Linked DNA regions of Homo sapiens: all the other regions are linked to region 5. Evidence: fine-mapped expression QTL. A gene starts in region 5. Each other region holds a variant in brackets. All regions are shown on one strand. Distances are between the middles of the regions. Region 1 overlaps ZNF749 (zinc finger protein 749). Region 2 has its middle 8.6 kb from the start of ZSCAN1. Region 3 holds the start of LOC124904780 (a long non-coding RNA gene). Region 4 has its middle 19 kb from the start of USP29. Region 5 holds the start of ZNF304 (zinc finger protein 304).

Region 1 (6,264 bases), 94 kb before region 5:
TGTGGTGACACTGGTGTAAACAAACCTACTGGTCTGCCAGTCATATAAAGAGCACAGGCCGGGCGCTGTGGCTCATGCCTGTAATCCCAGCACTTTGGGAGGCCGAGATGGGCGGATCATGAGGTCAGGAGTTGGAGACCAGCCTGGCCAACATAGTGAAACCCCATCTCTACTAAAAATACAAAAAATTAGCCGGGCATGCTGGTGGGCACCTGTAATCCTAGCTACTCGGGAGGCTGAGGCAGGAGAATCGCTTGTACCCGGGAGGCGGAGGTTGCAGTGAGCCAAGATCACACCACTACACACCAGCCCAGGCAACAGTGCAAGACTCTGTCTCAAAAAAAAAATAAAGCCAGGCGCGGTGGCTCATGCCTGTCATCCCAGCACTCTGGGAGGCTGAGGCGGGCGAATCATGAGGTCAGGAGTTCGAGACCAGCCTGGCCAACATAGTGAAACGCCATCTCTACTAAAAATACAAAAAATTAGCTGAGCGTGGTGGCAGGCACCTGTAATCCTAGCTACTCGGGAGGCTGAAGCAGGAGAATCACTTGAACCCAGGAGGCAGAGGTTGCAGTGAGCCGAGATTGTGCCACTGCACTCCAGCCTGGCAACAGTGCGAGACTCTGTCTCAAAAAAAAAAAAAAAAAAAAAGTGTGAGGCAAGGCTTCAGAAAATATTCCAGAATATTGTTATCATAGGAGATAACAACTCCCTGTTATTGAGCCTGAAAACCTTCTAGTGGGACAAGATGTGGAGGCAAAAGACAGTGATATTAATGATCCTCACCCTCTGTAGGCCTTGACTAATGTGTGTGTCTGTGTCTTCATTTTTAACTTATTTTTTACGAAGTTAAAAAATTAAATAGAAAAAGTTTATAGAATATAAAGGAGTACTTCTATACAGGCTGTATAATGTGTTTGTGTTTTAAGCTATTATTACAAAAGAGTCAAAAAGCTTTTTAAAATTTTAAAAGTTCATGAAGTAAAAACGTTACAGTAGACTAAGGTTAATTTATTACTAAAGAAAAAATTAATTTAGAGTAGCCTAAGTGTACAATGTTTATAACATCTACAATAGGGTACAGTAATGTCCTAGAGCTTCACATTCACTCACAACTCACTCCCTGACTCAACCAGAGGGGTCCCGCAAGCTTCGTTCATGTTAGTGCCCTATAAAGTTTTTACCATTTTTCATACATTTTTACAGTACCTTTTGGAAACTTAGATATGTTTAGATACACATTTACTTATCATTGTGTTTCAATTACCTACAATATTCAATACTGTAACATGCTGTTAAGGTTTATATCTGAGGCGCAATGGACCATATCATATAGCCTAGGTGCGTAATAGGCTGTGCCCTTCAGGTTTGTGTAAGTACACTCTTTGTTCACACAATGACAAAATCACCTTAAGATGATTACTCAGAACACAGTCCTCTTGTTAGGCGACACATGACTACAATGGGATTTTATTCGGCCTTTAAAAAAGATGAAAATCATAAGCTATGCTACAACATGGATAAACCTTGAAGACATTTAGGGAAATAAGCCTCAAAATAAGTCACAAAAGACTAAAACTTAAGTTTCCTCATATGAGATATTTATAGTAAAATTCATACAGTAGTATTGTCAGGGGCTGGTTGGCGTAGGGAATGAGGAAGAGGAGTAGTTTAAAGCAGCGGTCCCCAACCTCTTTGGCACCAGGGACTGGTTTCATGGAAGCCAATTTTTCCACGCATCAGGGACAGAGGAGGGGGCAGACAGTTTCAGAATAAAACTGTCCCACCTCAGATCATCAGGTATTAGTTAGATTCTCATAAGGAGCACACAACCTAGATCCCTCACAGGCACAGTTCACAATAGGGCTCAGGCTGCTATGAGAATCTAATGCTGCTCATCTGACAGGAGGTGAAGCTCAGGTAGTGATGCTGGCCCGGTTCCTAACAGGCCACAGACTGGTACCAGTTTGCAGCCTGGGGGTTGTGGACCCCTGGTTTAAAGGGTATAATGTTTTAGTTTCATTAAGTTGAAAAAACTTCTGGATATTAATTGACAACAATGCGAATGACTTAACACTACTGAACAGTACAGTTAAATATGGGTTAAGATGGTAGATTTTAAGTTACCTGTAATTTGCCACAATTATAATTTTTTTCTTTTTGAGACAGAGTCTCGCCCTGTCACCCAGGCTGGAGTGCAATGGAACAATCTCAGTTCACTGCAACCTCCGCCTCCCAGGTTCAAGTGATGCTCCCTGCCTCAGTCCCCTGAATAGCTGGGATTACAGGCACCTGCCACCATGCCCAGCTAATTTTTGTATTTTTAGTAGAGATGGGGCTTCACCATGTTGGCCCGGCTGGTCTCAAACTCCTGACCTCAGGTGATCCACCCACCTCTGCCTCCCAAAGTGCTGGGATTACAGGCGTGAGCCACCACGCCTGGACATAAATGTTTTTAATGTAGTTCCCAGCAGGAAATCCTCGCAGATTTCCATCTGAACTCTTTCAACATTAGATTTACATATATTAATAGGTTCTTGGTCCGATGTGAACCTTTTGGTGCTGAATGAGGTGACAGTTTTGGTGACTTTCCTGCATTCACTCCACTAAGGCCTTTTTCCAGTATGAATT[A/C]TCTGATGTTTAATGAGGCTGGAGTTGTATTTAAACACTTTGCTGGATTCACCACACTCATAAGACCTTTCTCCAGTGTGAGTTTTTTGGCGCTGACCAGTATTACATTTGTTGAAGTCTTTCCCACATTCCCTTAACTTAAAAGGACTTTCTCCAGTGTGAGACTGCTGATGTATAATAAGGCTCGATTTAGTCCTAAACAATTCCCTACATTTACTGCACTCATGAGGCTTCTCCCCAGTGCAAACTTTATGATGTTTAATGAATGTAGAGCGGTATCTAAGAAACTTCCCACAGTTGCTGCATTCATAAGGCTTTTCTCCAGTATGAACTCTCTGATGAATAATGAGTTTGTAGCTATCTCTAAAAAATTTCCCACATTCACTACACTCATAAGGTCTTTCTCCAGTGTGAACTTTCTGATGTCTACTCAGTGTACAGCGATATCTAAAGAATTTCCCACATTTGCTGCATTTATAAGGCTTTTCTCCAGTGTGAATTCTCTGATGAATAACAAGTTTGTAGCTGTCCAAAAAGAATTTCCCACATTCATTGCATTCATAACGCCGTTCTCCAGTCTGGATTTTCTGGTGACCATCTAGATGAGCCTGTGTAAGGAAGGCCTTCCCACATTCACTACACACATAAGGCCTTGGCCTGAGGTCAATCCTCTTGTGTTGAATGAGGTCAGACCTTTTTGAAAATGCATCAGTGTGGATTTTCTCATGCTGAACTAGGTGGGACTTTCTAACAAAGGCCTTCGCACATTGAGTGCATTCATAAGGCCGTTCTCCAGTATGGATTTTCTGGTGACCAACCAGATGAGCCTGTGTAAGGAAGGCCTTCCCACATTCACTGCATGTATAAGGCCTTGGCCTAATGTCAATCCTCTTGTGTTGAATGAGGTCAGACCTTTTTGAAAATGCATCAGTGTGGATTTTCTGGTGCTGAACTAGGTGGGACTTTCTAACAAAGGCCTTCTCACATTCAGTGCACTCATAAGGCCGTTCTCCAGTATGAATTTTCAGATGCTGAACAACATTATGTTTGAGGCTAAAGGCTTTCCCACATTCGCTACACTTATAAAGCCTTTTGCCAGCATGAACTCTCTGGTGCATATTGAGTGTGGAGCGGTGACTAAAGAATTTTCCACATATGCTGCATTCAAAAGGCCTTTCTCCAGTATGAACTCTCTGATGTCTACCGAGTGTGAAGCTGTCCATAAACAATTTCCCACATTCACTGCACTCGTAACGCCTCTCCCCAGTGTGAACTTTCTGATGTCTGATGAGTTTGGAGTTATACATAAAAAACTTCCCACACTTGTTGCATTCATAGGGCTGTTCTCCAGTATGGGTTTTCTGGTGACCAACCAGATGAGCCTGTGTAAGAAAGGCCTTCCCACACTGGGTGCATTCATAAGGTGTTGGTCTACTGAGAATCTCCTGATGTTCAATGGGGTCAGACCTTTTTGAAAGAAAGCCTTCACTGTGAATTTTCTGGTGCTGAACTAGGTTGGACTTTCTAATAAAGGTCTTTCCATATTCAGTGCCCTCATAAGGCCTTTCTCCAGCATGATTTTGCTGATATTTAATAAGGTTGGAGTTGTACCTAAACAATTCCCCACATTCACTGAACTCATAAGGCCTCTCCCCATTATGGGTTTTTTGGTGCTCAAACAGCCCATGTTGGTGGCAAAAGTCTTTCCCACCTTGGCTGGAGTTGAAATCATTCTGTTCACCTTGAAAGGCTTCCCCATCCTGGGTATCCCTGTACAGCTTCCACCCACTGTTTAAGACCTGTTGCTGGAGAAGGTCTGAGCTGGCAGTAAAATCCTTGCCACCCTGCGTGCATGTGAAGTTCCTCTCTCCCACGTGAGCACTGTGGTTCACAAATGAAGGCCTCCACTCATCACTTCTGGTGAGCTTCTCTCTAATCTGCTCCTTTTGGTGCAGGTCATGCTCTGCTGCACATGTGTACAGCCCTTGCTCAGGGTGTGTTCCATCGTGCTCAGCCAGGTGCAGAATGTCCTTCAGAATTGAGCTACACATCTTGCAGGGCTGGGCCTTCAGGGTGGACAAAGCTGGCTTTGGAATTGTGACCTGTAACACTCTTACAGAAACACACTGCTTGGAAGGTACCTCCTCATCCTTGGCTCCATGCCAACAACCTGTAAGAACAGAAATGCTGGTGAAGTGCACGTGAACTCCGGAGGGAGGAGACAGCCCCATCACAAATGTCTGTGAGACACACCCACAAATGAGGGCACAGGACTGGTCACAGGCAAGGAAATAAGGCCAGTGAGAGGAAGGCCCAGTGTTCAGAGGTGGGCCTGTGAAGTGTGTGTAGTGGGGGAATCCTGGTGGTAAGGACACAAGGGAGAAGTACCATGCAGGGAGGGCAGGTGGGGTCTCCAACTCACTCCTCTATAAATGGCTTTCAACAGGCCATGACGGTTGTGTCCAGATCCAGAGAGATCTGATTGTGTGAGAGCGAGTATTCATGGACTACTGAAGGATACACGCAGACCTCATAACACCTAAAGTACAGGTCATACATTAGACAGCACTGCAAAGGGAGAGGTGGAAGAGAATGGTGGAGAGATGAAGGCTGGAGAGGAGGGGTCAGAGGTGGAAGCCAGGGGTCAGAAGTCAGAGTAAAAATAACAACAGGGAAGGAAAGGAAGAGTGACGAGTGGCCAGTGGCCCTGCATCAAACAATAGTGGTCACAAGGTAAGTTCTCAATGTGATTTGAACCCAGCCTTGATATCACATCCTTTCCCAGCTTTCACCCACCAGGGCCAAGTCCTTCTGAGTGTCTCTTGCCATTAATAGAGGACTATCCACTCTGCCAGGCACCCAGAGACCTCCCCCTTGCTCAAGGTGAGCAACTATCTAGCTGCGGCATAAGTCCAGCTACGGGAAAGGCAGGGAAAGGGAGGGGACAGCATGTACACAGAGCAATAAACCCAGGACATGCTGCATTCTAAAGCTACCAGAACACCCAGTAGAGCGTCCTGCAGAAATAACTTCACAATCCTCACAAGTGGTGACCAGGGAGGTGCCTGAAATTCCTAGCACAGACACTGTCTCCAAGTATGTCAGCAAGGGGAACAGGGAAACCCTTGGACAGAGGTTTCACACATTTGGACAGAGTAATCAAACCAGGGACAGGCACCGCCATTAGGATATCTTAAAGAAACCTGAAGATTTCTGACTTCCGAGCCTTATCTTGTAAAGTTTCAGAGCAACAGAAGCTGGGGCTGCTTAAGGGGAGGTGGTACAGTATACACAGCCCAGCTCTGGCTGCCTTATCACATTTGCCAGGAAACCAGGAGAGGACAGGACGTAGCACTCACAATCTGGTGTGGGAAAGACAGAGTTGTCATGGAAAAGAGCAAAAAAACAGCACCCAGCACAAGACACCAGAGTAGGTATGAAGGCCTTACCTACTGATGACAAAAGCGCAAAGTTCTCCAACATCACATTGCTGTGCAGGTGTCTCTGAGCATCATTAAGGATCCCCCATTCCTCTTGGGAGAAATATATGGCCACATCCTCAAAGACCATACAATCCTGCCAAAATTATGACACTTCAGTCTATGAACAACTTCTTATTCTGTGTTTCCTTAG
Region 2 (6,264 bases), 670 kb before region 5:
CTGTCTGTGTCTGAAGCATGGGTTGCTTGTCTCCTCATTGTGCTGCAGCGACTGCACAGGTGAGGCAGAGATTCTCCCCTCTCTTGTCCACCGCCAACCCTTGGCGCTTAGAGCAGCGCCAGGCACAGGTAAGTGTGTTTGTTGAATGAACAAGTGTTTGTGGAATGAACAAATCTCTTCATGAGTTGATCAGCCCAGGGAATTTCTCTTTACCTGTGTGTGCCATCACCCATTTCTGTCCCAGGTTCCCAAACTGTCTCTGCGGACAGTTCTTCACATAGTCCCTCCGGTGATTTTTTTCTTTTTTAAAAAATGAATATGTTTATCATTTTACTTTATTTTATTTTTGGAGACAGGGTCTGGCTCTGCTGCCCAGGCTGGAGTGCAGTGGCTCAATCATAGCTCACTACAGCCTTGACCTCCCAGCTCAAGTGATCCTCCCACCTCAGCTTCTGAGTAGCTGGCACCACAGATGCATGAGACCAGACTCGGCTAATTTTTTAATTTTTTATTTACTTTTCATTTTCTATAGAGACAGAGTCTCACGTTGTGACCTAGGCTGGTTTCTAACTCCTGGGTTCAAACAATCCTCCCGCCTCAGCCTCCCAAAGTGCTGGGACTACAGGCTAGAGCCACCATGGCTGGCCTGTTTACCTTTATTTAAACATTGCCACAATGTTTTCCAAAGCAACCATTTCATTCTGCATTCTCACCAGACATACACAAGACTTCCAATCACTCCACTTGCCATCACTTGATGTTGCCAGGTTATTTTTTCTAATCAATGAATAATAATTGTATATATTTATGGGGTACAATATGATGTCTTGATATATGTATACATTATGGAATGATTAAATTGGGCTAATCAACATATCCATATCCTCACATCCTTATCATTTTTTGCAATGTGAACATTTAAGATATGATCTTTTTGCAGTTTTGAAATATACATTAATTATTGATAACTACAGTTTCCATGCTGTGCAATAGATCTGGAAACCTATTCCTCCTTGTCTAACTGAAACTTGGAGCCCTTTGACCAACATGTCCTACCCCCCGCCCCCCACCCCTTTTTGGCTGTTCTGCCCATTTTGCTATGCACATGTCATGATCAGTGCAAGGTCAGAGATAACCAGGTCCACACGTTCGTGTCTTTCCGCAATGTCAAGTGTTTACTGATGTTATTTCTTTTCTTTTCTTTTCCTTTTTTTGAGACAAAGTCTCGCTCTTGCCCCCAGGCTGGAGTGCGATGGTGTGATCTTTGCTCACTGCAACCTCCACCTCCCAGGTTCAAGCGATTCTCTTGCCTCAGCCTTCTGAGTAGCTGGGATTACAGGTACCCTCCACCATGCTCAGCTAATTTTTGAATTTTTAGTAGAGACGGGGTTTCACCATGTTGGCCAGGCTTGTCTCGAACTCCTGACCTCAGGTGATCCGCCCGTCTTGGCCTCCTAAAGTGCTGGGATTACAGGCGTGAGCCACCGCACCCGGCCTACTGATGTTATTTCAATCACAAAAGCCATGAGCTACATGGAGTTCCCAAGGAGCCAATTATCCCTTGTGCTTCTCATTCACTTGGTAGTCAGAGCCACAGGCACGGAGGCTCAAGCCACTCCACAAGCAGTTAATATTGCAAACCATACATAATAGTATACTTAATATAGAAATGTTATAGGTTAAACATTCCACAACCAACAAAGTGACATTTAACATCAAGAGAAAAAAGAGATAGGAGAAAGAGTTAAGGAACCAGTTCAGAGGCAGCGAAGAAGACAAAAGGCATCCTGGTCTGGGCCAGGCGGTGGGTGGGTGGTCTGTGAGGTCGGTGGTCTGCCATCCTGCAAGGAAGTCTTTGAGGTGGCAGAGCCTTTGGCCACAGAGGCTGAGTTATCATGAGTGACTGCAAAACAGTGTCAGTTAAAACAGCCATTTTGAGCTCCTGAAGGCCTAATTTTCTTTTTCTTTTATTATTATTTTTTAAGACAAGAGTTTTGCTCTGTCACCCGGGCTGGTGTGCAATGGCACGATCTCGGCTCACTGCAACCTCTGCCTCCCGGGTTCTTGTGATTCTCCTGCCTCAGCCTCCCGAGTAGCTGGGATTACAGGTGCACACCACCATGCCCGGCTAATTTTTTTGTATTTTTATTAGAGATGGGGTTTCACTACATTGGCCAGGCTGATTTTGAACTCCTGACCTCAAGTGATCCTCCTGCCTTGACCTCCCAAAGTGCTGGGATTACAGGCATGAGCCACCGTGCCCGAGAAGGCCTAATCTTTTATAGTCACCTAGTAGTCCCCTGGTGAGAACTGGCAGTGGAAGAGTGTGCTTGTGTCCTTACCTGGTTAGGTGCAGTCTTTTTTTTTTGTTGTTTAATAAACAGAACATCCTATCCTTGATGGCAGAGTGTCCTATGAAATATAAAATGGAGTCTTTTGCTAAGATGTAGTTATGTCAAGTCTGATGTATAGGCTACATCGTGCACAAGCGCTTGTGGAGACTTGTGGCCTCATCCCCTTTGAGTGTGCATAAGCCATAGCCTCTGCAGCTACAGCATGCGGTAAGCCTGGGCTTCTCCTTCCCTCAGCGTTTCCACCTGGGGCTACTGGGAAGCCCAAGGATTCACATTTGCCATGGAGGAGATCAACAGGGACGCCCACCTGCTCCCCAGCCTCAGGCTGGGCTTCTCCATCCGGAACTCTGGGTGAGAGGTGAAACCGGTTGGGCTTCCAGGTAGGGTGGTGACTTGGAGAACTTTTCTGTCTAGCTAAAGGATTGTAAGTGCACCAATCAGCACTCTGTGTCTAGCTAAAGGTTTGTAAACGCACCAATCAGCACTCAATCAAAACGGACCAATCAGCTCTCTGTAAAACGGACCAATCAGTGCTCTGTAAAATGGACCAATCAGCAGGATGTGGGTGGGGCCAGATAAGGGAATAAAAGCAGGCCACCCGAGCCGGCGGTGGCAGTCTGTTGGGCTTTCCTTCCAGTTTGTGGAAGTTTGTTGTTTTGCTGTTTGCGATAAATCCTGCTGATGCTCTTTCTGTGGGTCTATACTACCTTTATGAGCTGTTATACTAACTGCGAAGGTCTGTGGCTTCACTTCTGAAGCCAGCAAGACCACGAATCCAACGGGAGGAATGAACAACTCCAGATAAGAACTGTAGTAACACTCGCCGTGAGGGTCCGCAGCTTCATTGTTGAAGTCAGCTACACCAAGAACCCACTGGAAGGAACCAATTCTGGACACAGGGGGACTTCGTGCACGCAGCACTCCATGAGACCATGAGCTTTCTCACCGGGCAGGAGGAGCCCATCCCCAGCTACACGTCTGGGCCCAGCGCTCTCGGAGCTGCTTTGGAGAAACATGCTTGGCGTTGTCTATGCCAATGGCCAGGCTCCTGGGACTCTACAGGTTTCTCCAGGTAAGTACTCAGAGC[C/T]GTACCCTCCCCTAATATTTGCTGTGGTATTGGCCACAATGGGGGTGACGCTGAGGCCCTACCACGGAGGGTCCTGGCTCCCCGCCAATGCCCTACAGCCTGACGCCATCCTCCCCCTCACCATGACCTCTCTGTAAGAGAATGGTGATCGCTGCTGCATTCACCAGGACACTGAGATTGAGGGAACTAGCAGTGACACGTTGCAGCTCACCCAGCACTGGGGCGCTGAAGCTGGGTTTTGAGTCCAGGCCATAGGGCTTGTGCCGCCAGCCTCCACACGGCCCCGCCCCGCTGGGGCCTCCTGACTCTCAGGCCCTCGGGTGTCATTCCCATAATAGTAGCTATGTCTAGAGGCAACTTTTTTTTTCTGTTTATTTTATGTATGTATGTGGGTGTATTGAGATGGAGTCTTGCTGTTTCCCAGGGTGGAGTGCAGTGGCACGATCTCAGCTCACTGCAATCTCCGCCTCCCGGGTTCAAGCGATTCTCCTGCCTCAGCCTCCCGAGTAGCTGGGTTTCCAGGCGCCCCCTACCACCTCCCGGCTAATTTTTGTATTTTTAGTAGAGACGGTGTTTCCCCACGTTGGCCAGGATGGTCTGGAACTTCTGTCCTTAGGTGATCTGCCCACCTCGGCCCCACGAAGTGCTGGGATCACAGGTGTGAGCCACTGTGCTGGGGCATTTTAATTTTTTTAGTGATGGGGTCTCTGTCGCTCAGGCTGGAGTGCAGTGGCATGATCACGGCTCACTGCAGCCTCGATTTGCTAGGCTCAAGCAGTCCTCCGGCCTGAGATATAATCCACATACCGCGTAACTCACTCATGGCTTTTGGTATGTTCGAGTTGTGTAGCCATCCCCACAGCCAATTTGAGAACATTTTCATCACCCCACAAGGAAACCCCAACCCCTTTAGCCAGCAGTTTCCATCAGCTCCACCTGCCGGCAACCACTAATGTATGTTTTGTCTGTACAGATTTGCTTTTTCTGGATACTTCCTATAAACGGAATCATACGCTGTGTGGTCCTTTGTGACTGGCTTTTCTCACTAAATATATTTTCAAGGTTCATCCACGTTGCAGCCTGTGTCAGAGCGTCGTTCCCTTCTATTGATTAATTTTCCATCATAGGCTGGGTATAGTGGCCCTGTGGGAGGCCAAGGTGGGAGGATTGCTTGATGTCAAGAGGTCAAGACCAGCCTGGGCAACATAGGGAGACTCCATTTCTACAGGAAAAAAAAAAAAAAATTAGTGGCATGCAGCTGTAGTCCTGGGTACTCAGAAGGCTGAGGCAGGAGAATCACTTGAGTCGGGGGGCGGGGGGGGTGGGTCAAGGGTGCAGTGAGCTATAATCGTACCACTATAATCCAGCTTGGGCAACAGTGCAAGACCCTGTCTTAAAAATCCGTTGTATGAATAGAGCATGTCGTGTGTATCCATTTATTAGTTGATGTATATTTGAACTGTTTCCATTTTGGGCCTACTGTGAATAGGGCTGCTATGAACATTTATGTATCCGTTTTTGTGTGTATGTTCAGTGTGTTTTCAATTCTCTTGGTTGTATGGGTAGAATTTCTGGGCCAAATGTTCATGCTATGATTAACTATCTGAGGAGCTGCTGGAGTGTTTTCCAAAGCAGCGCACCATTTTACATTCCCACCAGCATTGTATGACGAGTCCAATTTAATAGATTCATGTTCCACTGAGAAACCTGTAAATTTGGGTTTACAGGATTCCTCTGCCCTTGAACGCCTTAAATTTGCAAAGTTTGCTGGCCTGCTGGGGGAGAGGCCTGCCTTCCTACCTGTGAAGCAGGGGGCCCTGTAAATCACAGAACAGGTTGGAAGGGTTTTCCTGGGGCGGTGTGAATGTTGGGGCCACAAAGAAAGCTCACCCCTTCACCCCTTACTCCTTCAGGGTGGGTTGTCATGTATTGGGGAGTTTATTCTGAGGTGTGACACTTCAGGTATGGGCTTGATCGTACGATCAATTTAGTCCAGTCCTATCCTGATAAAAAGGAGAGTTGATTTCTATAGAACCTCTGCAAATAACCGCATAGCTATTCTAGGTGCTTTTAACCCCAAAGTATCAAGCCAGGCTGATTTTTTTCCAAGAATTCACCTTGATTACTTCCCACTTGGATTCTTACATAAAATGCTTCTGAACTAGAAGTTTCTATATGTAGACTTTCTTTTCTTTCCTTTTAATTCAAGCACATTTAAAGGATTAGAGACTCAATTTTTTTTTTCCTTTTTGAATTTTTTTGAGACGAAGTCTGACTCTTGTCGCCCAGGCTGGAGTGCGGTGGTGCGATCTCGGCTCACTGCAACCTCTGCCCCCTGGGTTCAAGCAATTCTCCTGTCTCAGCCTCCCAAGTAGCTGGGACCACAGGTGCCCGCCGCCATGACCGGCTAATTTTTGTATTTTTAGTAGAGATGGGGTTTCACTATGTTGCCCAGTCTGGTCTCAAACTCCTGACCTCAGGTGATCCACCCGCCTCAGCCTCCCAAAGTGCTGGAATTACAGGCGTGAGACACTGCGCCTGGCCTTTTTTAAAACAAAACAAAACAAAACAAAACAAAACTCTCCCTGTGTTGCCCAGGCTGGCCTGCAACTCCTGGGCTTGTGATCCACCTCAGCCTCCCAGTGTTGGGTTTACAGGCATGAGCCACTGCGTGCAGCTGCAACTGCATTTCTTGACTGCAGCTCAAGAAGCTGTTTTCCTGTACCTGTAGGGTTGCCAGATAAAACAGTACCCCCAGTGAAATTTGGTTTTCAGATAAACAATGAATAGTCCTTTTTAGTAGAATTTGGTCCCAAATATTGC
Region 3 (6,264 bases), 180 kb after region 5:
ATGTTGCAAGCGAGGGTTCTAGTCTGATGGCTTTCATTTCACATAGAATCTGTAAGGCTGGCAATCTTGCAAGTACATAAAATCTTCGGAGACATTTCAGAATGGTATTAAAAGTCTGTAGATTTGGTTTCACCTTCTGTGCAACCATTTGTCTTAGCAGCTCCAGTATATTATTCCATTCTTCCTCAAATTTCTCATTTATCACCAATACTGTTGCTTCAATCACTGCATTAAATGTGTATACATCAGCACAGAGTCTGTTGTTTAGTAACTCAGTGTACAGGTTTAATGCCTGCTCATAAGCTTGATGCTTCACCATTCCTCGGATCACTGTGCAATAGGAATGTGCATTTTTCCCTGGCATTAGAGAAAACATTCTCTCAGCGTTGTTTTGTGCTCACCAGGTAACTCCAAATTGATCACCAGCTTTCCTCCTAGACCTCTTATTATTTTCCTCTTCCAATTCTTCTGACTGTTCAATTTGTTGAAACTGATAATCAGTTGAGGGCTCCTGGTCACCATAGTAACACAATAAATCCAAGAGACTATATGTTGTTACAAGAGACACAGTGGTTCCTGCTTGCAAAAGCTCATCAAACATGTCCACAGAGACTTTGACTTTTCTGAGCTTGATTCATTCCTTGAGAGTGGCTTCACTTATGTCTTTGATCTGAGGTTCAAAGTACTCAGGCATTAAACACAGTGTATGAGGTTCAGCTATGTCTTTCTGAAAATATTTGGAGTATGAATTAATAATGAACTTGGCCGTATTCTCCCCGGATTTCTTTGCCAGTAAAAATGAACGAGATTCTGAAGAGGATGTTGGTATGAGGTAAGGATTATCTTGAAACACGCAAGGTACAGCCGTGGGAACCCTGTTTACTGTGGATGCAAGAGCCTGAAGAACGGCTACTTTATCCCAAGTTTTCTTTTTTGGAATTACTACTTCTTCAATCCCTGTTATATCAGTTCCTTCAATATTTGAGAGGGTTGCACTTCCAGAATAAAATCTCAGCTGTGTGCTTGTTCACATAGACCTGCTGGCTGACCCGTCAGTGGCTGGTCAAGCCTGCTGCAGAGCCCCAGCCAGCGAACAGCAGCTACAGCCGCCATCTTTGACTTCTCTGCCAAGTGCTCCCACTCTTACACAATCATTCAACATCCCATTTCTGACACCACATCTAAAGCAAAAAAACTAACTGTTCTTTTCTTTCAACTCACTCAAAACAGAACATTTGTGTGACCAAATGAGTGGAGGTTTTTTCATCCATCCCAGTTTTCCAGGAGACACCAGTAGGTGTCCTATAATTCAAATCTGACACTATCTACTTGAAGGAAGTGTCACATCCCATAGGTTGAGGACTAAGTCCCACAGAATTGCCCTTCACTTCAGATGCCAGTCACAATCACCTGGTTGTGGCCTGTGCTTTTGACCAACTACATTAGAATTGGGGTTCCCACAACCCCCTAGAACTCATTTCTAGAATGGCTCATAGAACTCGGGGAAACACTTTGCTTATGTTTACTGTTTTATAATAAAAGATATCACAAAGGATACAAACAAACAGTCAGAAAAGATACACAGGGCAAGGTATGTGAGAAGAGGTGTGGAGCTTCCATGCCCTCTCCAGGAACACTGAATGTGTTCAGCAATCTGGAAAGCTAAAATCTTGTTGTCCAAGAGTTTTTATAGAGCTTCATGTCAAGCCATCCCACCCTTTCCACTTCACAGAGGTTGGTGGGTAGGACTGAAAGTTCCAACTCTCTAATCTTTCTGGTGACCAGCTTCATCTTGAGGCTGTCTAGGGTCTCCACCCTAAGCCATCTCATTGGTATAAACTGAGATGTGATCAAAAAGTCATTAAAAATAACAAAAGACATTTCAACACACAGGAAATTCCAAGGGTTTCAGGAGCTCTGTGATAGAAATAAGAAAGTCAAGCCTACTTGAGTTTGGAGAGGCTAATGCTGGGTAGTGTGAGCACCAATACAATGAGATAAATGGATTATAATGCCGCAGATAAAAATCATCCACTCCATGTGGCTTCTAAAATAATTAACTAACTTAAAATGGATGGGATGGGATGGGCCGGGCGCGGTGGCTCACGCCTGTAATCTCAGCACTTTGGGAGGCTGAGAGGGGTGGATCACCTGAGGTGGGCCGGGCGCGGTGGCTCACGCCTGTAATCTCAACACTTTGGGAGGCCGAGGGGGGTGGATCACCTGAGGTGGGCCCGGCGTGGTGGCTCACGCCTGTAATCTCAACACTTTGGGAGGCTGAGAGGGGTGGATCACCTGAGGTGGGCCGGGCGCGGTGGCTCACGCCTGTAATCTCAACACTTTGGGAGGCCGAGGGGGGTGGATCACCTGAGGTCAGTAGTTTGAGACCAGCCTGGCCAACATGGTGAAACCCCATCTCTACTAAAAAAAAACAAAAACAAAAACAAAAAAAAAACCCAAAAAAAACAAAATTAGCTGGGTGTGGTAGCACACGCCTGTAGTCTCAGCTACTTGGGAAGCTGAGACAGGAGAATCACTTGAAATCGGGAGGCGGAGGCTGCAGTGAGCCTAGATCGCGCAACTGCACTCCAGCCCGGATGACAAGAGTGAGACTCTTTCTCAAAAACAAAAAAAAAGAAAAGAAAAAAGAA[T/AAAAGAAT]GGGATGGGTAAAGTTCTTTACAGGAGTGTCAACTTATAAGTATAAAATGTAAAGAAGTAATAGAAATAGAATCCCCACAAGCAGTGATCACAGATTCAGGGAAGAATCATCAACAGAGGCTAAAACTAGAGGCTGAAGTGGGGGGACTTAATATTATTCAGACATTGCAAAGAATTGACCCACAGATTACTTATTAATTACAAAGAAGAAAGAGTGGAGAGATCTAGTAGATACCATCTTAACCAAGTAGTCAAAATCCAAATCTCCCAAATGGACAAACTGTATACTTAGGTGCCTCCTTATAGGACATAACATCATTGGCAATTCTGGGGCAAAATAAATGTGTTCATTGAATTATTGTTGGAACTTTGGAAAAGGTATACATTTTTCAAAATAAATAACTTGTCCTTCAAATCTCCAATATACTGAATACCTGATATTGGGCAAATTACACGTCTTCCTGGGCCTCAGTTTCCTCACATTAAAAATATGGAGATAATGTTATTACTTGCCTGCTCAATTGTAAGGTTTACAAAAAGAAAATACGTAGTTAATAACTCAGGGCTTGGTAAATGTTTGCTATTTGGAATAAACTGATGGGAGGCTACATGCAATTTCTACTTACCCCTTTAGCATGAAGATACTAAAAAAAAATTGTTTTAATGTTAATACTGGTCAGCTGTGCCTGAATTCCTTTTTTTTTTTTTTTTTTTTTTGAGGCGTAGTCTTGCTCTGGTGCTGAGGCTGGAGTGGCAGTGGCGCGATCTCGGCTCACTGCAACCTCCACCTCCCGGGTTAAAGCAATTCTCCTGCCTCAGCCTCCTGAGTAGTTGGGATACAGGCGCCCGCCACCACGCCTGGCTAATTTTTGTATTTTTAGTAGAGACGGGGTTTCTCCATGTTGGCCAGGCTGGTCTCGAACTCCTGACCTCATGTGATCCACCCACCTCGGCCTCCGAAAGTGCTGGGATTACAGGCATGAGCCACCGCGCCCGACCTGTGCCTGAATTTCAAAGAGAGGAGGGTAAAATGAGGCATGTCCCATCTCCTTCCTATCGCGGCCGAACTAGTGTTTCCGGTTAAGTTTGCCATGCTCTTAGCTGAGAGGAGGGGTCCATTCAGTTGGCTGGGAGCTTAGAATTTGATTTTTAGTTTACAGCTCTGTGATTCACCCGGGAGAGATGCAGAGTTAGGACAACAGGAGAGAAGCGAACCCGGAGAGCAACGCCTCCCAGCACTGCCTGACATCAACCGCTCTGGCAGGGCGACCACGCGGCCGGGGCCCTCCGGAAAGCAGCCTTAATCCCCGCCCGACCGCAGGTCTCGGGCCACGCAGCGCTAACAGCCGCGGGAGGGGGACCCAAACGTCAGCGGTCCCCAAATACAGGACCCTACCTTGCTCTGGCATCTCACCGGCCCTCCCTGCTGCCACTGAGCGCCGCGGAGAGGACGAGCCCGGCGCGCCCCGCCCCCTCGCGCGCCCCGCCCCCTCGCGCGCCCCGCCCCCTCGCGCGCCCCGCCCCCTCGCGCGCCCCGCCCCCTCGCGCGCCCCGCCCCCTCGCGCGCCCCGCCCCCTCGCGCGCCCCGCCCCCTCGCGCGCCCCGCCCCCTCGCGCGCCCCCGCCCCCTCGCACGCCCCCGCCCCCTCGCACGCCCCGCCCCCTCGCGGCCCCCGCCCCCCTCGCGGCCCGCGGCCCCCGCCCCCCGGACCCCCGCTCGCGCTCCCCGGACCCCAGCTCGCGGCCCCGGACCCCCGCTCGCGCCCCCCGGCCCGGGGACGCATTTCCCTTGCCTGCACCCAAGCCGGTAAAAGGGCAGACGTGGCAGCTCAAGGCGCCTGCGCCCAGCAGGTTGCAGGCCCCACTCTCTCAGGGAGACCAACATACTTGCGGAGCCGCACAGAGAGGTGAAGCTTAAAAGAGGTACCGGTGATGATATCCGGGCTTTTGAGGGCACGGAATTGAAAACTGGAGTGAAACATACAAATAAAAGGAAATAAAAGCTCATCAAGTTTTCTTTGTGTTGCTGATGGTGTAGCACAGGTCAGATACTCGCCCTGCAGAAAAGTCAGGTCAGGAATTTAGGATGCAGGATGACTTCTGATTCTTCCCCAGAGGCACTACCTGTGTGCACTGTTGGCCTCCCTTCTCCACGACTTCACCTGCATTTTTATGTACAATTTTAAAGGTTCTCGATATGGAATTGGAAATGGAATCCTGTGTCTTTTGGTAAACATTTACTAAAAGGCATCACATCTTGTTCTCCGTTTTCAGGAAGTTCACTCCTCCTTGTCAGTACTTTGACTAGACAATTAAAATAAACATAGATCCAATTTAGAAGAATGCTATAAAGATACAAAAAACATAAAAACAAAATATTATTTTAAAATACTGAATTAAGAAAACACTTGCAGGACATAGGACAAATGCAGCATAATATTTAAGTCTCAAAGAAATGTTCTACCTAAGAAAGAAGCAAAGAATCTGAAAGCTAATAAAAGAAAAATAAAATATGGCAAATACATTTGATTAAAAGTGTTCAAGCACGCTAGCGCTCAAATTAAAAATAAAACAATGAGATATTATTTCCAGCTCTAAGATTTATAATGATTGAAAATTTGATGGCTGGGCATGGTAGCTCATGCATTTACTGTCAGAGCACTTTTGGAGCCCTAGGGGGTAAGATCGCTTGAGCCCAGGAGTCGGAGGCTGCAGTGAGCCATGGTTGCACCACTGCATTCCAGCCTGGGCGACAGAGCAAGACCCTCTCAAAACAAATAAATAAATAAATACAATTTAAAAAAGAAAGAAAAATATTTTAAATAACTAAACTGAAACAGGTCAGGGTCACTGGTCTCATTGTCTAAGGTGTTATCTAAGCTCGTGGTCTCATGACCAAGAAAATTAAGGAGCGTGGACACAAACAGTGAGGTTGGATCAAAAATAGAAGCAGAGAGTAAAATGGTGGTTGCCGGGGGCTTGAGTGAAGGGGAAATGGGGAAATGTTGGTCAAGAAGTACAAATTTTCAGTTTTGCAAGATAAGTTTTGGGGATTTAAGGTACATAGTGACGTTATTTGACATGTACATTGTGACATTATGTGACATAGTTAACAAATTAGAAAAAAAAATTTTAAATTGGATGATCAGAAATGAAAAAAACAATACTACTTGACATTTGCTAAGAGGATAGATTTTTATTTTTTGCGACAAGGATAGACCTTAAGTGTTCTTCTGCATGGGGGAGAAAAGGATATTTTTTTTAAAAAGTGTTCTGACCGCACACACACACACACACAAAGGGTATAATTTGAGGTGGTTAATACATCAATCAGCTTGATTTGATTATGGTAACCATATCATATTATATGTGTATATCAAAATTCAAATCGTATATTTAAAATATGTATCTTTTTTGTCAACTGTACCTCAATAAAGCTAAAAAGTAAATACAAGGCCCAGGGCAGTGGATCACACCTGTAATCCTAGCACTTTGGGAGGCCGAGGCAGGTGGATCACCTGAGGTCAGTAGTTCGAGACCAGCCTGGCCAATATGGTGAAACCCCATCTCTACTAAAAATACAAAAAATTAGCCAGACGTGGTGGCAGATGCCT
Region 4 (6,264 bases), 250 kb after region 5:
TGTTCTCTCATAAATCGCAGGGACATTAATGGCTTAGTAAAATGCACATGTCCTGATGGGCTTTTAAACTCACCTCCCTATGTGGATGACTTTAGTATTTCTCTGCATAATGGGAGAAATCATTATTATTTAGAGCGGGATGGTGGAAGGGGTCTCAATCAGAGGTGGTTCTTCCCCGAACCGGTGGACCTTTGGCAGTGTCTGGAGGCATTTTTGATGGTCACAGCTGGGTGAGGGGCTGCTCCTGGCCTCTAGTTGGTGAGACCAGAGATGCCGCTTAAGATCCTACAATGCACAGGACAGAACCCCTTCCCCCACCCCCAACAGCAAAGAATCCTCCAACCCCAAATGCTGAGGGTGCCAGGCTGGGTAGTCCTGATTTAGAGTGACGGTGGAGGGAGGGAGCACTGGTGAGCTCACAAGCACTCCAACAGGACGCCGGCTCTGCTCCGTATTCAAGTCCAGCTTTGACAGTTTCAGGAGTTGGGAGGAGTTTGAATCTCGCTCTGACCACATCAAATGATTCCTGGGTGAGGAGAGGCAGTTTGGGTCCGGGATGGGGATATTTAGAACTTTCCGCAGTGCAGGAGATGACGGTGGTGGGTTGGTTTTCAGTGGCGGCAGAGGAGATGGGGGGAAATGAGCAGGTTGATCAGCGTCAAACGGCAGGACGTGGTGACCGATGAGAGGGGTAATGAGAAGGGCGCCATTGGCTTCTGGTCAGTGTAACCAGGTGGATAATGGTGCCATTGGTGGAGATGGGCAACTCTGGAAGGTGAGCAGGTGAGGGGAAGATGTCATAAGCTTCGTTTGGGACAGGTTGAGGCATCTCCCAGAAAACATTAAGTAATTAGCTTGTTATAGGCTCAATTTTGTCCCCCCAAATGCATGTTGAAGTCTTAACTCCCAGCACCTAGAAATGTGACTGTATTTGGTAATAGGGTCTTTAGACGAGTAATTAAGGCAAGACAAGGTCATTAGGGTAGACCCTAATCCAATATGACAGGTTTTTTTTTTTTGAGATGGAGTCTCATTCTTGTCACCCAGGCGCTGGAGTGCAATGGCATGAATTCGGCTCACCGCAACCTCCACCTCCTCAGTTCAAGCGATTCTCTTGCCTCAGCCTCCCGAGTAGCTGGGATTACAGGCACCTGTCCGCATGCCCGGCTAATTTTTGTATTTTTAGTAGAGATGCGGTTTCACCACATTGGCCAAGCTGGTCTCGAACTCCTGACCTCAGGTGATCTGCCTGCCTTGGCCTCCCAAAGTGTTGGGATTGCAGGCGTAAGCCACTGTGCCCAGCCTAAAAATAATTAATCTTTAAAAAGAAAACGAGGGAGATGAAGGCAGGAGCAGGCTGGGGATAAGAGAGCATGGTTTGATTTAGCTGACAGCTTGGCAGAAGGAGAGCCTGTGGCTAAGGTTAGAACCTGAGTTTAATAAAGCTAAAGGAGTCAGCATTACATGATGTCACAGTTGTAGAGACAGTGGGATTCAGTGTGGCCCTCCCATTCAAGGAAGCCAATTTATGGTAGAACATAGCATGTGGAGAGAAACACAAGTGAAAATGCTTAGAAAGAGAGGCAGCCTCATGTAGCAGTTAACACCCTAGAATCTAGGTTCAGGCTTCCTGAGCCTAAATCCTGGCTCTGCCTCACACAGCTGTGTCTCCATGGACTTCACCTTTCGTACTCACTTTTCTCACCTTTGAAATGGGATAATAGCAGCGCCTTCATCATAGATGCTCTGTGAGGATGAAATAAGTTAATGCACGCAAAGTACCTAGAAGGGTGGGTAAATATTTTCTCTAAATGCCCCCAGGAAAGGGCCAGAATAGCAATTTTTTTTGTTCTTTTTTAGATGGAGTCTCGCTCTGTTGCCCAGACTGGAGTGCAGTGGTGTGATCTCGGCTCACTGCAACCTCCACCTCCCAGGTTCAAGTGATTCTCTTGCCTCAGCCTCCTGAGTAGCTGGGATTATAGGCACCTGCCAGCATACCCAGCTAATTTTTTTTTTTGTATTTTTAGTAGAGACAGGGTTTCAGCATGTTGGCTGGGCTGGTCTCGAACCCCTGACCTCGGGTGATCCGCCCACCTTGGCCTCCCAAAGTGCTGGGATTACAGGTGTGAGCCACCGCGCCTGGCCCAGAACAGCAAGTATTTGAGGCTTTGCAGGCCACACAGTCTACTTAACTCTGCTGATGTAACACAAAGCTGCCACCAGGTGATGTCAATGAAGGCGTGACCATGGGCCAACACAGCTTTGTTTATGGAAGCCAAGATTTGAATTTCATATAATTTGCACATATTATGAAATATCATTTTCTTTTCTTTGTTTCTCTTCTTTTTTCTGTTCTCTTTCTCTCTCTTTTTTCTTTTCTCTCTTTTTTGAATAAAGAAAGGGTCTTGTTCTGTCACCCAGGCTGGAATGCAGTGGTGCAACCATAGCTCACTGAAGCCTTGATCTCCTGGGCTTAAATGACCCTCTCACCTCAGCTTCCTGAGTAGCTGGGACCATAGGTAAGTGCCAACACACCCAGTTAATTTTTTAACTTTTTTTTTTTTTAAGACATAGTTTTGCTCTTGTTGCCCGGGCTGGAGTGCAATGGCGCCATCTTGGCTCACTGCAAACTCTGCCTCCCGAGTTCAAGCTATTCTCCTGCCTCAGCCTCCCGAAAGTAGCTGGGATTATAGGCATTCACCACCACGCCCAGCTAACTTTTGTATTTTTAGTAGAGACGGGGTTTCATCATGTTGGCCAGGCTGGTCTTGAACTCCTGACCTCAGGTGATCCGCCCACCCCGGCCTCCCAAAGTGCTGGGATTACACGCCTAAGCCACCGCACCCGGCCAATTTTTTAACTTTTTGTAGAGATGTGGGGGGTCTCACTATGTTGCCTAGGCTGGTCTTGAACTCCTGGGCTCAAACGATTCTCCTGCCTCGACCTCCCAAAGAGTTAGGATTACAGGTGTGAGCCACTGTGCCTGGCCTGATTTATTTTCAACAATTTGAACATATAAAATCCATGCTTAACCTGAGGGCCGTACAGAAGCAAGCGCTAGTCCATATTTGATTCTGCCAAACGCTGCTCTAACTCTGCAGCTGGCTTTCAGTAAGACACATGGAAGTGTTAGATAAAGAGAAAAAAAAAAAAAACAGAAAAGTTCTGCCAGGGAACCCAAGACATTAAATTCCCCTGTTGACTGGGG[C/G]GAGGGACTTTAAGCTGTTCCCTTTACACCACAGGCTCCAAAAGGGAGTAGTCTGAAGCCTGGACACACTTATCCACAGACTCATTTGATTTGGTCAGCATGGTCTTTAGGAAGGAATAAATACATGACCTTCTTAAACATAAAATTTGGAAGATTTCACTTAAAGGAATCCAGATTTCTGGGTTTTGTGACCCATGTTCCTATGCGGCAGCCACAGGTTGGAGCAGAAGAGCAGGGAGCCCCTTTATTTATTTATTTATTTATTTTTATTTTATTAATTTTTTATTTTTTTGAGACGGAATCTCGCTCTGTCGCCCAGGCTGGAGTGCAGTGGGGCGATCTTGGCTCACCGCAACCTCCGCCTCCCAGGTTCAAGCGACTCTCCAGCCTCAGCCTCCAGAGTAGCTGGGATTACAGGCATGAACCACTACACCCGGCTACTTTTTGTATTTTTAGTAGAGACGGGGTTTCACCATGTTGGCCAGGATGGTCTTGAACTCCTGACCTCAGGTGATCCACCCGCCTCAGCCTCCCAAAGTGCTGGGATGGCAGGTGTGAGCCACTGCGCCCGGCCAGGGAGCCCCTTTAGATGGGATGGGGAGGGACCTCCGATCAGGGCTGCCCACTCACTCCTCCTCCCTCTGCTTCCCTTCCCTCTTCCATCTCCCTCCCCCATCCCCCCCATCCTTCATTCATCTACCTGAGGTGCCTGACCCTGGTAGACAAGGAAGATATTAAAAATGTTTAACAAGGGTGGGGCAGTAGCCAATCCTGATGAAGCCCTGACCAATGATACACGAGCCCCAGCTGGGAGCTATTGGTACCATCTGTAGCTCCTGTGGACATTGACATTTAAATTGATTTAACCTTTTTTTTATTTTTTATTTTTTGAGACGAAGGCTCACTCTGCCACCCAGGCTGGAGATCTCGGCTCACTGCAACCTCTGCTTCCCAGGTTCAAGCGATTCTCCTGCCTCAGCCTCCCAAGTAGCTGGGGTTACAGGCGCACACCACCATGCCCGGCAAATTTTTGTATTTTTAGTAGAGATGGTGTTTCACCATGTTGGCCAGGCTGGTCTTGAACTCCTGGCCTCAAGTGATACACCCTCCCTCGACTTCCCAAAGTGCTGGGATTACGGTCCTGAGCCACCGCGTCCGGCCAGACTTATAATTTTAAAAAGGAAAAACCAGGGGCACCCCACCGCCTGGGGATCGAGGGGAGCCCAGCATAGGGAGGGAGAGGGAGCCAGGGTTATAACGTCCACATTCATACAACCTCAGCCTTGACCACTACGTGCGGATCATGGCGGTAGCGACCCGGCAGGAAACACAGCGAGCGAGCTGATTTGTGATCATGGTCGGTGCTCCGAAGAACAGACAACGAGGCGTGGAGCGCGTGCCGGGTGCGATCCTGGAAGGCTCCTCAGAGGAGGTGACATCTCGCTGGGCCTGGCGGCCCTGACGTCCAGCGGCGATGGCGGTCCATGGCCACCAGGTGGCGCCGCGAGAACGTGGCTGAAGCAGCTAGGCCGCGTTCCTGCGATCTGACTGTGCAGAGAGCTGTGGCTCCAGGTTTATCTCAAAGCATTTTTCTCAGCAGATGAACTTAGGGAGGGAGGCAGGAGAGCAAATTCCCCTCACTGCCCATGTGTCAGTTTTATTGTACCTTAACGGTAGTCAGTGCTGCAGCAGCCGAGAGCCCGGGCCCCCAAATTTGGGTTTACGGGCTGGCTCCAACCCAAACCAGCGTGTGTGTCCCTGCCATGGGCGTTTTATGTATTTATTATGTATTTGTTTTTCTATTGAGACAGGGTCTCACTCTGTGGCTCAGGCTGGAGTACAGTGGCGCTGTCTTGGCTCACTGCAGCCTCCCCAGCTTGAGCAATCCTCCTGCCTCAGCCTCCCGAGTAGCTGGGACTACAGGCCTGCACCACCACACCCAGCTAATTTTTGTATTTTTTGTAGAGAAGGGTTTTTGCCATGATGCCCAGGCTGGTCTTGAACTCCTGGGCTCAAGTGATCTGCTCACCTCTGCCTCCCAAAATGCTGGGATTATAGATAGGCATGAGCCACCACACTTGGCAATTATTTATTTATTTTTATTTTTACGGTTTTTTAGAGTCAGGGTCTCACTCGTTGCCGAGTCTGGAGTGCAGTGGCAAAATCTTGGCTCACTGCAACCTCTGCCTCTTGGGTTCAAGCAATTATCATGCCTCAGTCTCCTGAGTAGCTGTGACTACAGGTGCTCACCACCACGCCTGGCTAATTTTTGTATTTTTTAGTAGAGATGGGGTTTCACCATGTTGGCCAGGCTGGTCTCGAACTCCTGACCTCAAGTGATCCACCTGCCTCAGCCTCCAAAAGTGCTGGTATTACAGGTGTTAGCCACCGTGCCTGGCCAGTTCACTAATATTGAGATAAATCATACTCGTGTAAGACGCTACTAACAGGGGAAGCTGGGTGCAGGAACAAGGAAAACTTTCTATTCTCTTTGCAACTTTTCGCCAAATCTAAGTCGATTCTAAAATAAAAGTTGATTCTTTTTTATTGTTTATCTGAAATCCATATTTAACCAGGCAATTTGTATTTTTATTTATTAAATTGGGCAACCCCAGTGCAGAGCTAAGGGAGACAGGTGGATTCTCTAACCCAGACACACGTTTTTGAGCCATCAGCGTCTGTGATCCAAGCCGGGAGCCGGCATGAGATCCCGAGTGAGGGAGAGTGATGGAGACCATGGCGTCTGGAGCCGGAGATGCAGGGAGGTGAGCGAGAGCTGTCCGAGCAGTGGCTGAGGGTGTTCACTGCTGGCCGACTTAGTCTCTCCACACCTCAGTACTCTTCTCTGTAAAATGGACACTAGAATCACGCCTGCCTCACGGGCTTTTGGGAAATGCAATGCCTTTGATGGAGTATTTATTGCTGCATCAGGTGCACAGGACGCAGACAGAGTTAACTTACTCCCGAGTTCATCCCATCCAATTTCTTCATGGACGTGTGTCCACAGATACACATACAGACATGTGCCCAGGGAGACATAAGTAGAATATATGATG
Region 5 (5,599 bases):
CAGACTTACCTAGTGTAGCCACAAGTGCAAAGTTCTCCAGCATCACATCACGGTACAGGAATCTCTGTGCCTCCTCAAGGAGTTCCCACTCCTCCCGAGAGAAGTACACGAACACATCCTCGAAGGTCACACAACTCTGCCATGATAAGTACAGCTGAGTCCACAGTCAGCATCTCTCCCCAGAACCCCCTCCTCCCCAGTCTACACACTCACACACCCACTCTCTAGTCCCTCGCCTCCCCAGCCTCCCAACTAAGAGGAGATAACAGACCTTGGCACCACTAGTGTCTGCTCTCTCCTCATGTCCCTCTCACCACTGTGTCCAGCCCAGAGCAGAACCAGGCAAGTGTGCAGACAGATGCTGTCTCAACTCTGGGTCTGGCATGAAGGGTCCCAAATACTCGCCTACCAACCAGTTCTCCTGGTGTTGTCCAGACGATGCCTCTAAACACAACCAAACTTCAGCTCCATCTTCTCCCATGAGCTGCCAATACTAGAGTCTTAAGGGCATCAGTTCACACTCCTCCCAACGTGCTCATTACTCTTTGGACTACACCTTCCTCACATCTGAGATCCCCACCGCCACTGGCCCATGCCATATGCACCTCCATGACATCCCTCATCCCCCATGCCACTCTGCAAGCAGTGTCCAGGAAGCGCTCGCGTCTTCACACTATCCACCACTGCCGTCCAGGTGCCTAAGCAACAGACCCAGTTTTCTCTCAGTGTCCAGTTTCAACTTTCTTACTGAATAACAGCATTACCACCATGATTTGAAGATACCCCATCCCACTCCACACACTGGCCACCATTTTTTTCAACTTCTTCAACAGAACCCTTCCCCAGAACTAAAAACCTGTGTGTTTTCCTGAGGCCTCAACTAAGATGACAACTGAGACCTCTTAACCTAAACATGACCAAAGCCTAACTCCTGATATAACCACTAAAAATCATACCTGCTGCCAACTTCTCTATCTCAGTTGATGGCATTTTCATAATTTTACCAGCTACAGCAAAAACAAACCAACCTTAGGGTCATCCACGACTCTCCTCTCTTTCACCTTTCGCATCAAAAAATCCAATCACCCTACTTTAAAAAACAGAAAATTTACCAACTTCTCTCACCTCCACAGCCACACCTCTAGACCAGACACCATCAACACTACTGCAGTAGCTGCTCCCTCATGCTCACAGTCTGTTCTCAACCTGAAAGCCAGAGAGAGCATGTTAAAATCTGAGTCAGATCATCTCCCTCCTCTGCTCCAAATCTCCCACGACTTTTACCACACTCAAGACACCTCGGCCAGCCATTCCTGCCTAACTCCTTCCTCTGATACCTGTTTCCAACAAAGGTAATTAAGACCTGAGATTCCCTGAGCGCTCCAAACTCAATCCTACAAGCATTTGAGCGTACCTGTTCCTAGGTCTGATATACTTTTGCAGTACTCATCCCATTGGTCGCCAGGTGGGGACTTCTCCACATAACTCCATACAACTCATGGCCTGGATTCAGGACACTAAACTAGAAATGACCTCCATTCACTGCCCCCTGTCTCAAGTGAAGACAGTCATGTGAAGAATCCCAGGATATCATCACTATGTCTCATCAGAGAATCTGGTCAGCCTTCCTTATAAAATACATACAAAACCCAAAACCCATACATTCTCTAACCTCTGCTGCCACCACTCTGGCCCAGACCATCAACGCTCACCTGGACTATTTCAGTAGACTTCATCTTGATCTCCCCGTCTACCCTATAATCCCTAGTCTACCCACTCTGCAGCCAGAGGGAGCCTTTTAAGAACTGCGTCAGAGGACCTCCCTTCTCTGTACCAAACCTTGCATGACTCCCAGCACCCTCAGAAGAGAGGACCAGCTCCTCGGGCGGCCATTCCAGGCCTACCTCTGACCCCCTAGTCCCTGTTCTCACCAGGCACAGAGAGTTCCCGGAACTCCCCAAACTCATTCTCCTCTCCATGCATGCATTTGTACGAACTGCCCCTGCGCCTTCGAGTCCGTTCCACACCTTATGCCACTGATGAGGGGAGCGGAACCCCTCCACATAATGCGACGGAGTGAGCACCCTGAAGTGCGCGATGAGAGCGAACATCCCAGGACACACCAACCAGGCCGGGGTGCGCTTGAGGGATGCCCCCACTCACCTGAACCCGGTCCATCAGCACCGCCGCTGCCATGAGAAGCGGATGAACAGTCTGTGCCCTGTGGGCTCAGCCGAAACCCCACGCCTCCACCGCGCTGGACGCCCTCGGGCTGAGTGTAGCACTCCAAGTCTCAATCTACCCGGTGTAAAAACGCTCACAAGACTAAGGCGGCTGCTTCTGGGGGAGACAAGGACAAGAGGACGTGTGTGGAGGCCTCGGTAAGAGCCCAGCCCCGGCAGACACCTCCGCGAGAGGCCGCCCGTCCCACGACAGGGGTCATGGATTGTAACAAAAGCGCGAAGGAAGGTCCTGCAGTCTTCACTGTCTTTCTTTGCTAGGTTCCACGAGAGCCGCGTAGAAAGCCGACCCGATCTCTAGAACTCAGCCTTCACAACCAGAATGCACGGACCGGGCATAGGAAAAATACGTCACGACGGCGACGCCAGAAGTCTCGCCCCTGCAGCCCAGAGCAGCAGGAAACGCCCAGTTTCTGGGCTGTCATTGGCTGCACGCCGGCTAACAATGAGCTGGGCACAGATTTCTGGGTAACGTAGTTTGTACCCTGCATCCAACCAGGCAACGAGCGCCTTTCGGGTTCTCCCGGATGTCTGCCAAGAGGCGTCGTGCAGGGAGGGGGAGAAAAGACTGGGAAAACGATATCTCGGAGGCCACAGCTGCTTTTAAAGGGTATGCACCCTGATTTCCATGGCCACCTGGGACAATGCCACGCCACTGAAGTCGCCAGCAAGGGACCCATTCTTCAATCCTGCTTCTGAGGCCCTGGGAAACCTGCTTCACCTCTCTCAGATTTGGGGATTGAAACGTATTAATAAATTGAACGTTGTCTGTATTTCGTTTGTGGGCCTTTTTGTAAAACATTGAATGTCCTTCTAATTTTTCTAACATATAAAGAAAAGAGATGTAATTAGCTACCTTTCTGCTGGCTGTACAGGAAGCATGGTGCCCGTATCTGCTTCTGGTGAGGCCACAGGGAACTTTTATTCATGGCGAAAAGTGAAGGAGGAACTTACATGTAACATGACGAAAACATGAGCCTCTTCTAATTCATTGCTTCCCAATTTGATATGTAGTTTTACAGCATCAGCTTCACTATGAACTTAAAAAACCTGTGAATTCTTGGACCCAACCTATACCTTCTGATAAACTCTGGGGATGGGACCCTAGCTGAAGTTCAAGAACTGGAGGTCTTTTAAAGTCATTAGCCAAAAACAAAACAAAACAAAAACAAACAAAAAAAAATCAGTAAGATGAAAAACACTACAACCAACCTCATTAGGAATATGGGAAGTGAGGTAAAAAGTACTTAACACCAGGCCTGGCACATCGTGCTAAATACATACAAGCTGTTATCAGTCTTCCTCAACACAAGGTTCTCACATACACTGCTTTAGGAAGATAAATCAAAGATCCACCTTTTCAGGATCAGTGTGATTTTGAAAAAAAAAGAAAAAAGTACAATTATTCCCTCACTCATCAAATAGCATCATAGATAATAGTTATAATTTTTTTTTGAGACAGAGTTTCACTCTTGTTGCCCAGGCTTAAGTGCAATGGCACGATCTCAGCTCACTGCAACCTCTCCCTCCCAGGTTCAAGCGATTCTCCTGCCTCGGCCTCCCGAGTAGCTGGGATTACAAGCATCCGCCACCATGCCCGGCTAATTTTGTATTTTTAGTAGAGATGGGGTTTCTCCGTGTTGGTCAGGCTGGTCTCGAACTCCTGACCTCAGGTGATCCAACTGCCTCAGTCTTCCAAAGTGCTGGGATTACAGGTGGGAGCCCCTAATGGTTATAATTTTTGCACAAAAGCACACCAATATATCAATAGACTCATTTAATTGAAAAAAATCACATGCAAGAGGGTTTCATAAACTACAGGTAGGTCTATCGTCCAGAAGACACATTCTTATAGGCTGTATGATTCAAAACACAGAACTATCAAGACTAATTGCTCTTCATAATTTTTAACTCCACTGTCCACTTAAGAGTCACTGTAGTTAAAATTTTATAACCTGGTTTATTTTATGAGATGACATAGAAATAATTCATATCTTTGAGAAAAAATATATATACACACATACACACAGCATTTATATATATATACACATGTAGTTTATATACACACATACATAATTATATATATGTATAATATAAATTATCTGTCTCCACTCAAAGCCAATATAAATTTAGGTGTCAGGAACACATGGAATAACATACGGAGTCAGTTACAGATATAACTGCCAGCAGATTTCTATGCACGACAAATGCACTGGCTAAGAAAAACTGAAATAAGACTATTTGAAGCCCAAAATGAGAAATTTAATGGATAAAAATAACTGGCATAAAATAACACTTTTAAGATCCTTCTTAAGGTTGAAGGAAAGTGATCCCAGGTGATGGTCTGTGATGATAGAAGAAATGAGGATCTGAGAGAGGAGTGCATCTATGGATTAATGAGACCACTCATTATCTGTATAAAATATTAATACTGTTGGGCGCGGTGGCTCACGCCTGTAATCTCAGCACTTTGGGAGGCCAAGGCAGGCGGATCACGAGCTCAGGAGTTCGAGACCAGCCTGTCCAACATGGTGAAACCCTGTTTCTACTAAAAATACAAAAATTAGCCAGGCGTGGTGGTGGGCGCCTGTAATCCCAGCTACTCAGAAGGCTGAGGCAGGAGAATCACTTGAACCCGGGAAGCGGAGGTTGCAGTGAGCCAAGACTGTGCCACTGCACTCCAGCCTAGGCAACAGAGTGAGACTGCATCTCAAAATAAATAAATAAATAAAAATTAAAATAAAAAATAAAATAAAATATTAATACTTCTGGAAACAGAATGGTGGAATTACCATGCATATCCTCAATAGTATATAAACTCATATGGGCAAATTAACTAACATATAAGTTTCTTATATTTCTTGAGGAGAGCAAATACATTAACTCTATAATGTATTAAATAACTGTTTTAAAGCTTAAACATTAACTGAATCAGAGTATATATCTTACAAATTTAAAGAAAATGTAAATGTAAAGAAAACATTACAAAAAATAAAGTACACACAATAAGTAAGGCAAAGAAAAGCACACACACAACCAGAGGATGTATATAAACCCAAATATATCAGCTATCTCATGAAATGAGTATGGAATAAATTCTTAAATTAGCACTTAGTAAGTTTTGATGTGTTAAAAATTTCCAAAAGGCCAGGCACAGAGGCTCATGCCTATAATTCCTGCAATGTGGGAGGCTGAAGCAAGAGAACTGCTTGAGGTCAGGAATTCTATTAATAGATCAGCCTGAGCCACGTAACAAGGCCCCATCTCTACCAAAAAAAAAAAAAAAAAAAAAAAAAAAGTAATAGCAGGGTGTGGTGGCACAAGCCTGTAATCCCAGCTACTCAGGAGGCTGAGCCAGG

The links.
Region 1: its variant is fine-mapped to the expression of ZNF304 in whole blood (INTERVAL, PIP 0.95).
Region 2: its variant is fine-mapped to the expression of ZNF304 in amygdala (GTEx, PIP 0.93).
Region 3: its variant is fine-mapped to the expression of ZNF304 in whole blood (INTERVAL, PIP above 0.99).
Region 4: its variant is fine-mapped to the expression of ZNF304 in cerebellum (GTEx, PIP 0.90).

Annotation. Positions count from the first base shown.
Region 1 is chr19:57,441,828-57,448,091 of GRCh38, reverse strand. It overlaps ZNF749 (zinc finger protein 749), which reads right to left. Exons shown (of 3, transcript NM_001023561.4): 2 at 6,081-6,207; 3 at 991-4,801. The coding sequence ends at 2,607. Among named protein-coding and RNA genes, the nearest start is that of ZNF749, 9.6 kb to the right of the region's middle. The variant A/C (reference allele first, on the strand shown) is at 2,632.
Region 2 is chr19:58,022,291-58,028,554 of GRCh38, reverse strand. It overlaps the pseudogene VN2R19P. Among named protein-coding and RNA genes, the nearest start is that of ZSCAN1, 8.6 kb to the left of the region's middle. The variant C/T (reference allele first, on the strand shown) is at 3,442.
Region 3 is chr19:57,170,080-57,176,343 of GRCh38, reverse strand. LOC124904780 (a long non-coding RNA gene) reads right to left here and starts at 4,100. Exons shown (of 2, transcript XR_007067355.1): 1 at 4,048-4,100. It also overlaps the pseudogene LOC100132009. RefSeq lists an enhancer at 4,073-4,132 and a silencer at 4,464-4,513. The variant T/AAAAGAAT (reference allele first, on the strand shown) is at 2,652.
Region 4 is chr19:57,097,807-57,104,070 of GRCh38, reverse strand. No RefSeq gene overlaps it. Among named protein-coding and RNA genes, the nearest start is that of USP29, 19 kb to the left of the region's middle. The variant C/G (reference allele first, on the strand shown) is at 3,209.
Region 5 is chr19:57,348,262-57,353,860 of GRCh38, reverse strand. It overlaps ZNF304 (zinc finger protein 304), which reads right to left and starts at 2,590. Exons shown (of 3, transcript NM_020657.4): 1 at 2,164-2,590; 2 at 10-136. The coding sequence starts at 2,196. RefSeq lists enhancers at 2,288-2,357, 1,696-2,554, 2,508-2,597, 2,555-3,414.